3 linked regions of the Homo sapiens genome follow. The protein of the gene in region 3 purifies or fractionates together with the protein of the main gene of each other region. This does not show direct contact. Each region holds a gene or a part of one and is shown on either strand. Other genes may lie near its edges.

Region 1 (3,649 bases), on a different chromosome or scaffold from region 3:
GCGGAGGCTGTCGAGCACTAGGTAGACAGCAGGCCAGCAGCGGGCAGCAGGTTGGGCCAGGAGGGAGCAGAGAGTAGGGGCCAGGGCAGGCTGAGCAGGAAAGGAAAAGGCTGCCTGGGGTCCTGAGGGCTCAGGGAGGACTCCAGACAGCTGGCCTTCTTATGCCAGCCCGCTTCTGTGGGAGAGGCCCTCTGCGTAGGTGACTGGGCAGGGAAGAGGCTAAGACACTGAAAGATTGAATTCCTCACCCAAATGGCCCAGAGATGCCCACCGCACACAGTGTCCTGGGTGCAGAAGGCAGGAAGGACTCATGGGAGGCTGTCCTGTGGACTGAAGCAGAAAGTCCTTCCCGTAAGATGCGCTCGTCGCCCTGAGCAGGAAGGCCCAGGCTGCGGAAGCAGTGCCTGAGACCTGAGCAGCAGGAAGGACACCAGTAAAGCTCATCAGGAGGCATCTGGCCGCCTGCACCTACCGGGCCTCAAGGAGAGAGCTTATTTCTGGGAGCCTCCTTGGTAGAAAGAGGTGGACTAGCCAGCAGGTTGGGGAGGAGCATTGCAAATGGAAGCTTCTGAGGGCAGAATGAGTTCTGAACTTGCTGAAGCCAAGGCTGGCCCTCCTGCCCAGGGCGAGCAGTCTGCCTGGGCCTGGGAAGTTGTCCCCTTCTGAGGAGGTGCCCTCCACCCCACCAGAGCTCAGCCCTAGGGGCCAGGAAGGGCTAAAGCGAGAAGAGTGAGATGTGAGATAAAGGGGACCGTGTCTCTTCCTGGGAGGGTGTGGGGTCCAGGCAGCACCTTGTTCTGGCGCACAGGCTGCCAAGCAGATGACAGCCATGGCCTGACTACTAGGTGCAAGCACTGGTGGCAGGAAGAGGGGGTGGACAAAGCAGGACAGAGCTCTTGCCCTGGGGATGCTCATAGCCCTGCAGCAGAGCAGTGGAAAGGAAAGCTGAGCTGAGCGTGGGGCCAACCGCGCCAGAAACAAGCGGAGCCACAAAGCCACCATCAGCCCCCAGGTGGCTTCGTCCTTTTGCCAACTCTGGGTCCAACTCATCGCTGAAGTTGGCAGCCATGACCCATCCAGCCCAGATAATTTATAAATTTACACCAATACTGGGCAACGGTTCTTAACATAGAACTTTATAAAGATGGACAAAAAAGATAAGTTGAGAATGACAAACAAAGGAAGAAGCAGCTTCTATCTGCAGTTGCAGGAGGAGGTGAAGGCTCGGGGAGATAGACCAGGGCGGGAAGAGGCAGGATGGTGGTTGGTTAACATGAAGTCAGCAGCATGAGCCTCAGGCCCGGTGCTGCCTCTTCCTGGTGACTCGGGCAAGTTACTTCATGTCTCTGGGTCTCAATTTCCTCTCCTGTCCAACAGAGATAATTATAGTACCTATGAGTTAGGGTTGTTGAGAGGATTAAATAAGATAATAAGTGAATGCTCTGAATGGCATGACTGGCACATACGTACATGTTCAGCAAGAGATAACTATTATCACCGTGATGATAACTGGTGTCAGAGGAACAAAGTGCCAGGAGAGACCATACCTTGTTCGGGGGAATCAGGAAAGGCTTCACGGAGGAGGTGACTTTGAAAGAACCCTCCTCTGAGGAGAAACAAAAGCTCTCAGAATGCCCAGGAAAGCTGGGAAGAAACAATAATGCCAGGTCTATTTTTTTCCCAAATAGCATATTGTTTGTCCACTGAGGCTTTCTAAGGAATAACTTGAGACTCCTCTTTCTGGGGTCTAGACTTGGAGGTCTTGAGGACTTGAAGTGGGCTGCCCCTAGTGAAGGGATCGAGAGCCGGGCTGTGGCCCTGGCCCTACTCCTTTTGGGGACTGGAAGCTTTTTTCACATGCTGGTCCTAACTGCATGAGGAACTGTGTTCTGCTGAGCCCCATCTAAAGCATACACTTGGTGATGTGGCAGGCAGAGGGGCCAGACAAGGCCACGGCAGGCTCCTGGATCACTCTGGCAAGTAGCTTAGAAATGCCTAGTAATCGTGGGCAAGGTGCAGTGGCTCACGCCTGTAATCCCAGCACTTTGGGAGGCTGAGGTAGGCAGATCACAAGATCAAGAGATCCAGACCATCCTGGCCAACATGGTGAACCCCGTCTCTACTAAAAAATACAAAAAATTAGCTGGACGTGGTGGCGCGTGCCTGTAGTCCCAGCTACCCGGGAGGCTGAGGCAGGGGAATCGCTTGAACCCAGGAGGCGGAGGTTGTAGTGAGCTGGGATCGTGCCACTGCACTCCAGCCTGGCCACAGAGCAAGACTCTGTCTCAAAAAAAAAAAAAAAAGGCCAGTAATCGTGAGGTTCCATCTCAGAGACTTTTGTTTTCTCTTTTTTTCTTTTTATTTTTTTTTTTGAGACAGAGTTTCGCTCTTGTTGCCCAGGCTGGAGTGCAGTGGCACGATCTTGGCTCTCTGCAACCTCCGCCTCCCTGGTTCAAGCGATTCTCCTGCCTCAGCCTCCCAAGTAGGTGGGATTACAAGCACCCACCACCATGCCCGGCTGATTTTTGTATTTTTAGTAGAGATGGGGTTTCACTATGTTGGCCAGGCTAGTCTCGAACTCCTGACCTCAGGTGATCCGCCGACCTCAGCCTCCCAAAGTGCTGGGATTACAGATGTGAGCCACCACACCCAGCCTGCTTTTTCTACAAAGGATTATCTGTTCTATGAATTTAGGAAAGGTAATCCTAAAGCTTATTCACCTAAGAAAAACAAGGCAACCCCAGAGCATGACAGGCTTTCTTGGGCTGGGGGAACTCACATGTGAAAAAACAGGTTCCCTCATAACTACATGAGAGGCCGCAACTGCCTCAGCCCCAGCAAAGGGACACCTCTGCTGGCCAGCATTTCCTACAAAACCTCATCACGACACATCAGGCAGGGCAGAGACCCAAGTATTCACATAGGGCCAGTGATGACTTTTTTTGACACCTGTGGATTCTCCGTGGCAACCTATTCCCCAAAAGTGCTGCCTCGGTCAGCCAATCCCAGTGTCTCTCTGCCTAGGCAACAATCTCTTGTGCTCTGGTCTGCCCACAGCCTCCATGCACTCAGCTCTTTGGGCCTCTTGCTAAGGGGCTGGAAGCAGAGCTGTGTCCTTCAGGCTGTCAAGGACCTGGTGAGGGATCCTCTGGGTGTCCAGGGAAGCAGGTTCAGAAAGCTCAGTTCAGCTGGTGCTGTATTTTGATCTCTGATCCCAGTGCAGCGGGGACCAGCCTACTCAACTCAGTGCAGATAGCAACAAACCAGTCACCTTGCCCAAGACCTCCTGCTGCCTGCCTGCCTGCCTGGTGACCAGGACTCCTAAAGGCTGCAGCAGCAGCAGCAGAGTTAAAACTTTAAAACCGGGAGGACTGGTTCTGTGGCTCAGCTTCCTGGCCTGGAGAGGCTCTAGCCTCCATTTTCTTTCTTTCAGCTTATGGAATTGTGCAAGAAAGCACAGAGGGTGGAGGGAGCGAGGGGACCAGTTATGCCACAGCCTCCTGCACCACCAGAGCACAGTCTCAGATCAGCAAAGAGGAGCTCTGAGGAGGAAAAGGCTGCCCCAGGAAAGAGCTGGCCATCTCAGATTGCTGTAGCACATTCAAGCCAAAGGGAGTCCCCGGAGGATGTTTCGTCCAGCCCCCATAAT
Region 2 (4,402 bases), on a different chromosome or scaffold from region 3:
TTAATAGGATGTTAAAAATAAAATAGCCAGGGCACACAAAGCCTTCTGTGACCTGCTAATGCTTCTCAAAATCACATCATGGCAGATGCAAAGAATTATTTCCCCAAGAAAAACAAGACCTTGACTCAGGGCAATTTTCTGCACAACCAGCATTTTTTTTTTTTTTTGGATTGTTGAATTAATGTTTGGCACGCATTACTGTGAAGTGCATGATTATACCTACATAATATATCACTACAAACTAGGTTTATGAGTTCTCAAATAAATTCTGGGCCGCATTAACAACTAAGTGACTTGTTAAGAGTAATTCAGGATAATTTTCTTAAATTTGTAAGATATTTGTTGAATGACTGTTTGAAAAGGGCTTATTTTCTCACTGACCACTGGAGATCTTTAAACTTTCAGGTAACACGTTTAAGTCTTAAAAGCATTACTGCTGAAGTTAGGGGATTTAAGCCAAGTCACAAATGTCTGGAAAGTAGAGTTAGAACTTTACAAATTCACACTGAGTTCTCAGTTACATTCGTTTTACCATTTACTATTAGGAATAAAATCAAAGGGCTGTGCTTAACTTCAGTCAGACCTTTGACCTTAAGGGCAGAAGGAAGCAGAGAATTATAGTTCACACATAATAAACACATCTCCAAATTATTAAAAAGGCATTTTATTATAAATACATTTTAGTTGTAGCAGTAAAATACATTTTGTTACCATGAATCTTTGAAAACAAAAGAACTTCACTGAGACAATGAGCACACTGTAGGAACTGTAGACCCCAAGTTGAAAACTTGTTCTATGGAACCAAAGTAGCTAACGTAATTCCAAAACTAAGTTAGAAAAGATAAAGACAAAGAAAGAAGAAAATAAAAACCCTAGAGAGTGGCTTTGGGGTTATTTTATGGTACAAAGTCACTTTTACTTTTAAGGATAAACTCTTTAGGTATTAGAGCCTCTTAGATGAGGTATCATTTACTGCAAAGAAAAAAAATTGTTATAATTTTGCCATAAGTTATGCCTATTTAGATGGCTGTATAACTGGTACTTTGAAGAGATGAACCTGACCACCTCAGTTTTGTACAGCTTCCCTCAGGAAGACTTCCCAAAATAAGACTCAGTATGAATTTGCTAAGTAACTGATCTATGAAGTTAGCTGAACAAGTTTAGATAAGAACTATATGTATGAAGCATTAAAAAAAAATCCTGTGTCACTAATAACAGGACCCTTTAATAAAATGCAAAACTCATTATCTTTATAATTTAGAAGAGAAGTATTTTAATCACCATATTTACCTAGGATACAACTACTACATATAGCCAGTACCTTTATGGGGTTTAAAGAATCAGGTCAGATGACTGGCACAGAAATCAGATACAGTACAATGTCATATACATGGATTTATAGGAAGCAGGCATGGTCTGGATTTATGAAAATCCAGGACCCTTCCTCTGTAAAGGGGGAGGCTGAGAAACATTCTCAGCTGCACTGACACTTTGGGACTTCAACCAGGACAAAGAGCCCTCTGACCTACTGAAAGATATAAAGAGGTCTTCGCATACAAGTTATCGTGCAAAGCAAAGTGTAAATAAACCGAAGCTCCCCTCTAAGTTGGGACTGCATAAAGGAACCCAGGCTGAAAATATAAACAATCCTCTCCAAAGGTGAGCAAGCCTTTTCAGTAGGAAGGACTGTGTCTTAAGAAAACTCCAAAGCTGTATATTCTACGATGGTCTTCACGTGTACTTTTACACCTAAGTCATTCTGTATTCTATTACCATAAAAATAGCTTTTTTTTGTCTTTCTAGTAGCTCAGTAAATTCAAAGGCAAACTAAAAACCAGAAGCAGAGCCCAGTACCCCCCAAGATGCAGTCCAGATAAAACAGCAACAACACACAAATTAAACAATACCCAAAGACCTGACAGGTTTATTATATTATAGGCAGTTTCTTTCTCAAAAATAACTTGCTCATACATGTGCACCTATGACTTATGAATAATTCATGCTGTGTAGGTGGTAGATCCCCCTAGGCTGTTTTGCAAACACATATAGATTTTTTTAAAGGTAGCAAAGTAATCAGAGACATTTATTTTCTGCCATATGTAACACTTCAGGCTCTCTCTAACACCTGCTGGCATGGCAGAGAATCTAAAATAACTTTGTTAACCTGAGAAACACATAATTTGAAAAACAAATCCTTTGCCCTCACCACCCTCCCCCACAAAAAAAAAAAATAATAATAACCATAAAAACTAAAACATTTGCCAGGCGCAGTGGCTCATGCCTGTAATCCCAACACTTTGGGAGCCCGAGGCGGGCAGATCATGAGGTCAAGAGATGGAGACCATCCTGGCCAACACGGTGAAACCCCGTCTCTACTAAAAAATACAAAAATTAGCTGGGCGTGGTGGCGCATGCCTGTAGTCCCAACTACTTGGGAGGCTGAGGCAGGAGAATCACTTGAAGCCGGGAGGCGGAGGTTGCAGTGAGCCGAGATCATGCCACTGTACTCCAGCCAGGGCAACAGAGCGAGACTCTGCCCCGAAGAAAAAAAAACAAAACTATTATTTTATTATTTAAGGATTATCTGTGGTTTTCGATGCTCCATGTCACTGCCATCTTAGGACAGGGACTCCTGCACTTAGTGCCTCGATACATGCTAGGTGCACTCTCATGGCATTCTGATGGCTTCTTTCCAGGATTCTCACTTCCATGCATGTGGATCAAGATTGACCCTAAGCACACCAAACAAATGCACAGCTTCCAGACTGATGTCCAGGCAGCAGCGTACACAAAAGCAAACTCACCCTAAAACCAAAGAGCTCCTTCACCCTACTGCGGAAGAGCAGTGCAGACCCCAGCAGGGGTGAGAGTGAGGAGGGGTGGTGGCCAATCCAAAGGGCCTGTCGCTCCATGGAGACCTTTCTCCACAAATGTTCCAGTCATGGCACCAGATTTATAAAAATGTCTCCAGAGATCAGTTTTTTACACTGAGTAAATAAATACATGGTTGAAAAGACGTTCAGACTCTGAAGGTCTCTGAGACTTTCAAACTGCGAGAATCAGACCCAGTGATTTTCAAAGTGTGGTTCCTGGACTGGCAGCATCAGCATCGCCTGGAAACTTGTTGGAAATGCAAATCATCAGGCTCCAGACCAAAATCAGAAATGCTGGGGGTGGGTCCAGCTATCTGAATTTTAACAAGACCTCGAGGCAATTCTGATACTGGCTGAAGTTTGAGAACCATTGCTCCATCCTGTTCACAATTCTCAAATCTTAAAACAGGACAGATCTGTAAATAGTACTATGTGACTTCTACTCTGTGTTGCAACCTATGTAATTTGCCACCCTTTCCCCTTTACTTCTCAAACATTAAAAAAGTATTAATGAAAACACTTCATAAAATCAAAAATTTCTTAAAAGGTAATATCGATTTCCCCTCCTCTACATAGTTCTAAGGCAGGCAATCACATGCTAGTATGCAAAGTAAAATACAGAAGAGACCTCATATATGAGGTAGAAACAGTTAAAAAGACTCCCCACGAACATAATGAAAATTTCATAATATTGTTTAATGAACTCATAGAATTATATAAAACTTACTATGCTTTATGCTTAATATCTGTATCAAAATAAAATCTCTCTGTTGAACAAATTGCAAATAAAGTCTGGTCTAATACTCTGATAACTGAAACTATATGAATGTCTCTGGGTTTTCTTAACACTCCAGTTTTAGACGCTTTAGACGACCACTGCGGAACTGGGTTTGGTATTTAACCACAGTTCACATTTCTAAGTCTAGATTCTTCTATTAGGTACCTCCCTCCAAAAAATTTTTAGAAACTCTGGTGACTGTTTCCTTAAACTTCACTCCAAAGTAGACATTCTCAATTGGTTCAAAAATTTTAAACGTTACATTAAAATTGTTTTTAAATCTCTTGAATCTCATATTCTAGTTTAAAGTAATAACAGGATGTGTTTAGTAAGATTCACTCCTTGCAACAATGGTCTTGACATTACTGATTAAAAAGGTATGAAAGTAGAAAGTGTGAATTTAGCAGCTTTAAAGTCTCAGCTAATAAATGTCCATCCTCAAGCAGATGGGAAATGTGAGGAGCATATCATAATGAGCATTTTCAAGACTAACATGCCAGTTACTCTTTCAAGATGGAGATGGTGTCTTTGTAAGTGATTGGCACCACTACGTGATATTTTGAACAAGAAATCGTAGATAGAACATTACCTATTCTTTCTAATTTCTAGGCGGTTTGAATGTGGATCAGATGGCAAAGAGTGGAGACAAATCAGATCCATTAAGACATTTATACCTTGAGATTCAGGAAGACATATAGCGCGGCAGTAGAAATTAAGGATTTTCATATGTTAAGGGGATGGTGAGCAAGAA
Region 3 (2,835 bases):
TCCAGCCCCCTTCAGCATCTCCGGCTACGACATCCCTGAGGGCACAGTCATCATTCCGAACCTCCAAGGCGCCCACCTGGATGAGACGGTCTGGGAGAGGCCACATGAGTTCTGGCCTGGTATGTGGGGGGCCGGGGGCCTGCCGTGAAAATGTGGTGGAGGCTGGTCCCCGCTGCCGCTGAACGCCTCCCCACCCACCTGTCCACCCGCCCGCAGATCGCTTCCTGGAGCCAGGCAAGAACTCCAGAGCTCTGGCCTTCGGCTGCGGTGCCCGCGTGTGCCTGGGCGAGCCGCTGGCGCGCCTGGAGCTCTTCGTGGTGCTGACCCGACTGCTGCAGGCCTTCACGCTGCTGCCCTCCGGGGACGCCCTGCCCTCCCTGCAGCCCCTGCCCCACTGCAGTGTCATCCTCAAGATGCAGCCTTTCCAAGTGCGGCTGCAGCCCCGGGGGATGGGGGCCCACAGCCCGGGCCAGAGCCAGTGATGGGGCAGGACCGATGCCAGCCGGGTACCTCAGTTTCTCCTTTATTGCTCCCGTACGAACCCCTCCCCTCCCCCCTGTAAACACAGTGCTGCGAGATCGCTGGCAGAGAAGGCTTCCTCCAGCGGCTGGGTGGTGAAGGACCCTGGCTCTTCTCTCGGGGCGACCCCTCAGTGCTCGGCAGTCATACTGGGGTGCGAGAGAGGTGGGCAGCAGCTCAGCCTCCCCCCGCTGGGGAGCGAAAGTTTCTTGGTCTCAGCTTCATTTCCGTGAAGGGCACCGAGAACTCGAAGCCCTTCCAGTGGTACCAGCTCACTCCCTGGGAAAGGGGTTGTCAAGAGAGAGTCAAAGCCGGATGTCCCATCTGCTCTTCCCGTTCCCCTTAAGGAGGTAGCTCCCAGCACTCAACCAACCTCCCCGCAGAGCTCCCTTCCTGACCCTCCGCTGCAGAGGATTGAGGCTTAATTCTGAGCTGGCCCTTTCCAGCCAATAAATCAACTCCAGCTCCCTCTGCGAGGCTGGCATGATTGTTCCATTTCACCCAGCCACTCAGTCCCTTGCCTGTTACACTGTGGGGCTGAAACCTAGGCAGGCCGAGCCCCAGCCACCCCAGCTCTGAGCCGCCTCCCCACCCCTCACCTGATGGTCCACTGTGCTCCCGTAGAGCCCGTTGAGGTTGGCGTAGTGGCAGTTCCTGTACCACCAGGCCCCTCGGTAGGAGACAGCGCAGGAGATGAGCAAGCTGTTGGGGTCCCGATCACGGGCAGAGAAGACACTGCCGCTGTGGTAGCTCATGGAGTCCCCTGGGCAGGGTGGAGGAAGGAGCCATGAGGGCCTCCCCTCCCAGCCTCACCCTCCCAGCCTCACAGCCTCTGCTTACCTGCGGTGCCGTGGTAGCCCTCCAAGTGGAGGCGGTAGTACTCCGCAGCCGAGTCTACGTGGAAGGAGTCGTACTGGGCGAACACAGCCTCGTCCCCAGCCCGCAGGTCCACGCGCATGGAGTAGTCACCTGCCTGTGTCAGGCTGTGCAGGGCCTCATTGCCTGGGGGTGGGATACGTGCCCTCATCAGGGTCCTGGTGTCCACAGGGCCCCCATCCCCATCCGTAGTTCCCCAGTCCCTGTGAGGCACTGACCCAGCCAGAACTCTCCAGAGATGTTCCCAAAACCATGGGCATAGTCCTCCCAGTCCCTCCAGAAGTCTGTCTGTCCATCCATGCGGCGCTGGAACACCTGGGAAGCAAGTGGGGGCACCATCAGCCTCTGGCTCCCGGGGCAACAGACCCTGCCCTGCACAGACCCCTGGGCTTCCCAATGCCACCCACCAGCCAGCCGCCCCCATCAGTCTCCATGTCGCAAAACACGTTCAGGGGCCGCTCGCGGTTGCCGTTGAGGAAGATGGTGCTGGTCCTGGAGGCACCGGCTCCGTTCTGCATCTCCTCCCCGCAGTCCCTGGGGAAGGGGATCCGCAGCCCACCTGGGAGAGGAGAGCAGGGGCCAGTCCTTTTCCAAGCCTTAGGCCCTGGCTGCCCACCCAGCCCCCGGCCCCGGGCCCGTGCGTCCAGGTACCCGTGGTGAAAGAGGTGGACACGGGCGGCAGGAGGCTCTGGCCCCACATGGCCTGGAGCCGTGCATTGTAGGAGGTGGAGGGAAAGAGGCCAAGGAGCTGGTGAGATGTGATCCCTCCTGGGAGCAGGATCTCCTGTGGGACAGACAAGGGGGGGTCAGGGGAGAGGGAGGTGGAGACCCTCCGGGAGGGCCAGAGGCAGCACCTCCTGGAATCACCCAGGGAGGGGAGTTGGGTCAGTGGGGCCGGGGCACCTGGTTCTGTCCACCAGGGGTGTGGAAGCTGAGCAGGTAGCCTGCGGGCCGGACTGGGGGCTCAGTCCAAGTGAGCAGGGCGGTGCGGGGGGTCACTTCCTTGGCCTCCAAGTCCCGAGGGGCCTCTAGCCCTAGGAGGGAAAGCAGGAAGAGGAGATGGGGATGAGGCCCAACCTGGCTCCCTCTACCTCCTCTCCCTGTCCCACACACCCCACAGACCCTACCTGTGGTGAAGGTGATGCTGGCTGGGGAAGTGAGGTTGGGGCCCCGCAGGCCACGCACTGTGGCGGTGTAGTTGGTGTGGAGGACAAGGTCATGCAGGGGGTAGTCCACCGCGCTGCCTGGGGTCTCCGCCTGCAGAGGCGGGGCTGGGAGTGTAGAGAGGGGCATCAAGGCCTGCCCCCTCCATCCTCGGCCAGAGTCCAGCCTCCCCCCTGCAATCCCCACCCTGAACAAGTCCCCTCCAGAGGCCTCAGGCCTGCTCACCCCCAGGGGCTGTGACCTGGACGTCATAGGTGTCCACAGGATTCTGGGGGG

The links.
Region 1: the proteins of TNXB (region 3) and PAK6 purify together in Homo sapiens (affinity purification with mass spectrometry, with the first as the bait; one large-scale study listed by BioGRID). This does not show direct contact.
Region 2: the proteins of TNXB (region 3) and HELZ purify together in Homo sapiens (affinity purification with mass spectrometry; one large-scale study listed by BioGRID and IntAct). This does not show direct contact.

Annotation. Positions count from the first base shown.
Region 1 is NC_000015.10:40,242,043-40,245,691, forward strand, and holds part of PAK6 (serine/threonine-protein kinase PAK 6), read left to right. Parts: intron 1-3,649. UniProt on the Homo sapiens protein: Serine/threonine protein kinase that plays a role in the regulation of gene transcription. The kinase activity is induced by various effectors including AR or MAP2K6/MAPKK6.
Region 2 is NC_000017.11:67,069,796-67,074,197, forward strand, and holds the end of HELZ (probable helicase with zinc finger domain), read right to left. Parts: 3' UTR 649-4,402; downstream 1-648. UniProt on the Homo sapiens protein: May act as a helicase that plays a role in RNA metabolism in multiple tissues and organs within the developing embryo.
Region 3 is NC_000006.12:32,040,653-32,043,487, forward strand, and holds the end of TNXB (tenascin-X isoform 3 precursor), read right to left. Parts: coding exon 2,785-2,835; intron 2,667-2,784; coding exon 2,523-2,666; intron 2,430-2,522; coding exon 2,299-2,429; intron 2,180-2,298; coding exon 2,047-2,179; intron 1,955-2,046; coding exon 1,803-1,954; intron 1,711-1,802; coding exon 1,614-1,710; intron 1,522-1,613; coding exon 1,360-1,521; intron 1,283-1,359; coding exon 1,119-1,282; intron 993-1,118; exon of another isoform or gene 799-992; coding exon 697-798; 3' UTR 501-696; downstream 1-500. Other genes in the region: CYP21A2 (steroid 21-hydroxylase), read left to right, coding at 16-119, 217-482. UniProt on the Homo sapiens protein: Appears to mediate interactions between cells and the extracellular matrix. Substrate-adhesion molecule that appears to inhibit cell migration. Accelerates collagen fibril formation. May play a role in supporting the growth of epithelial tumors.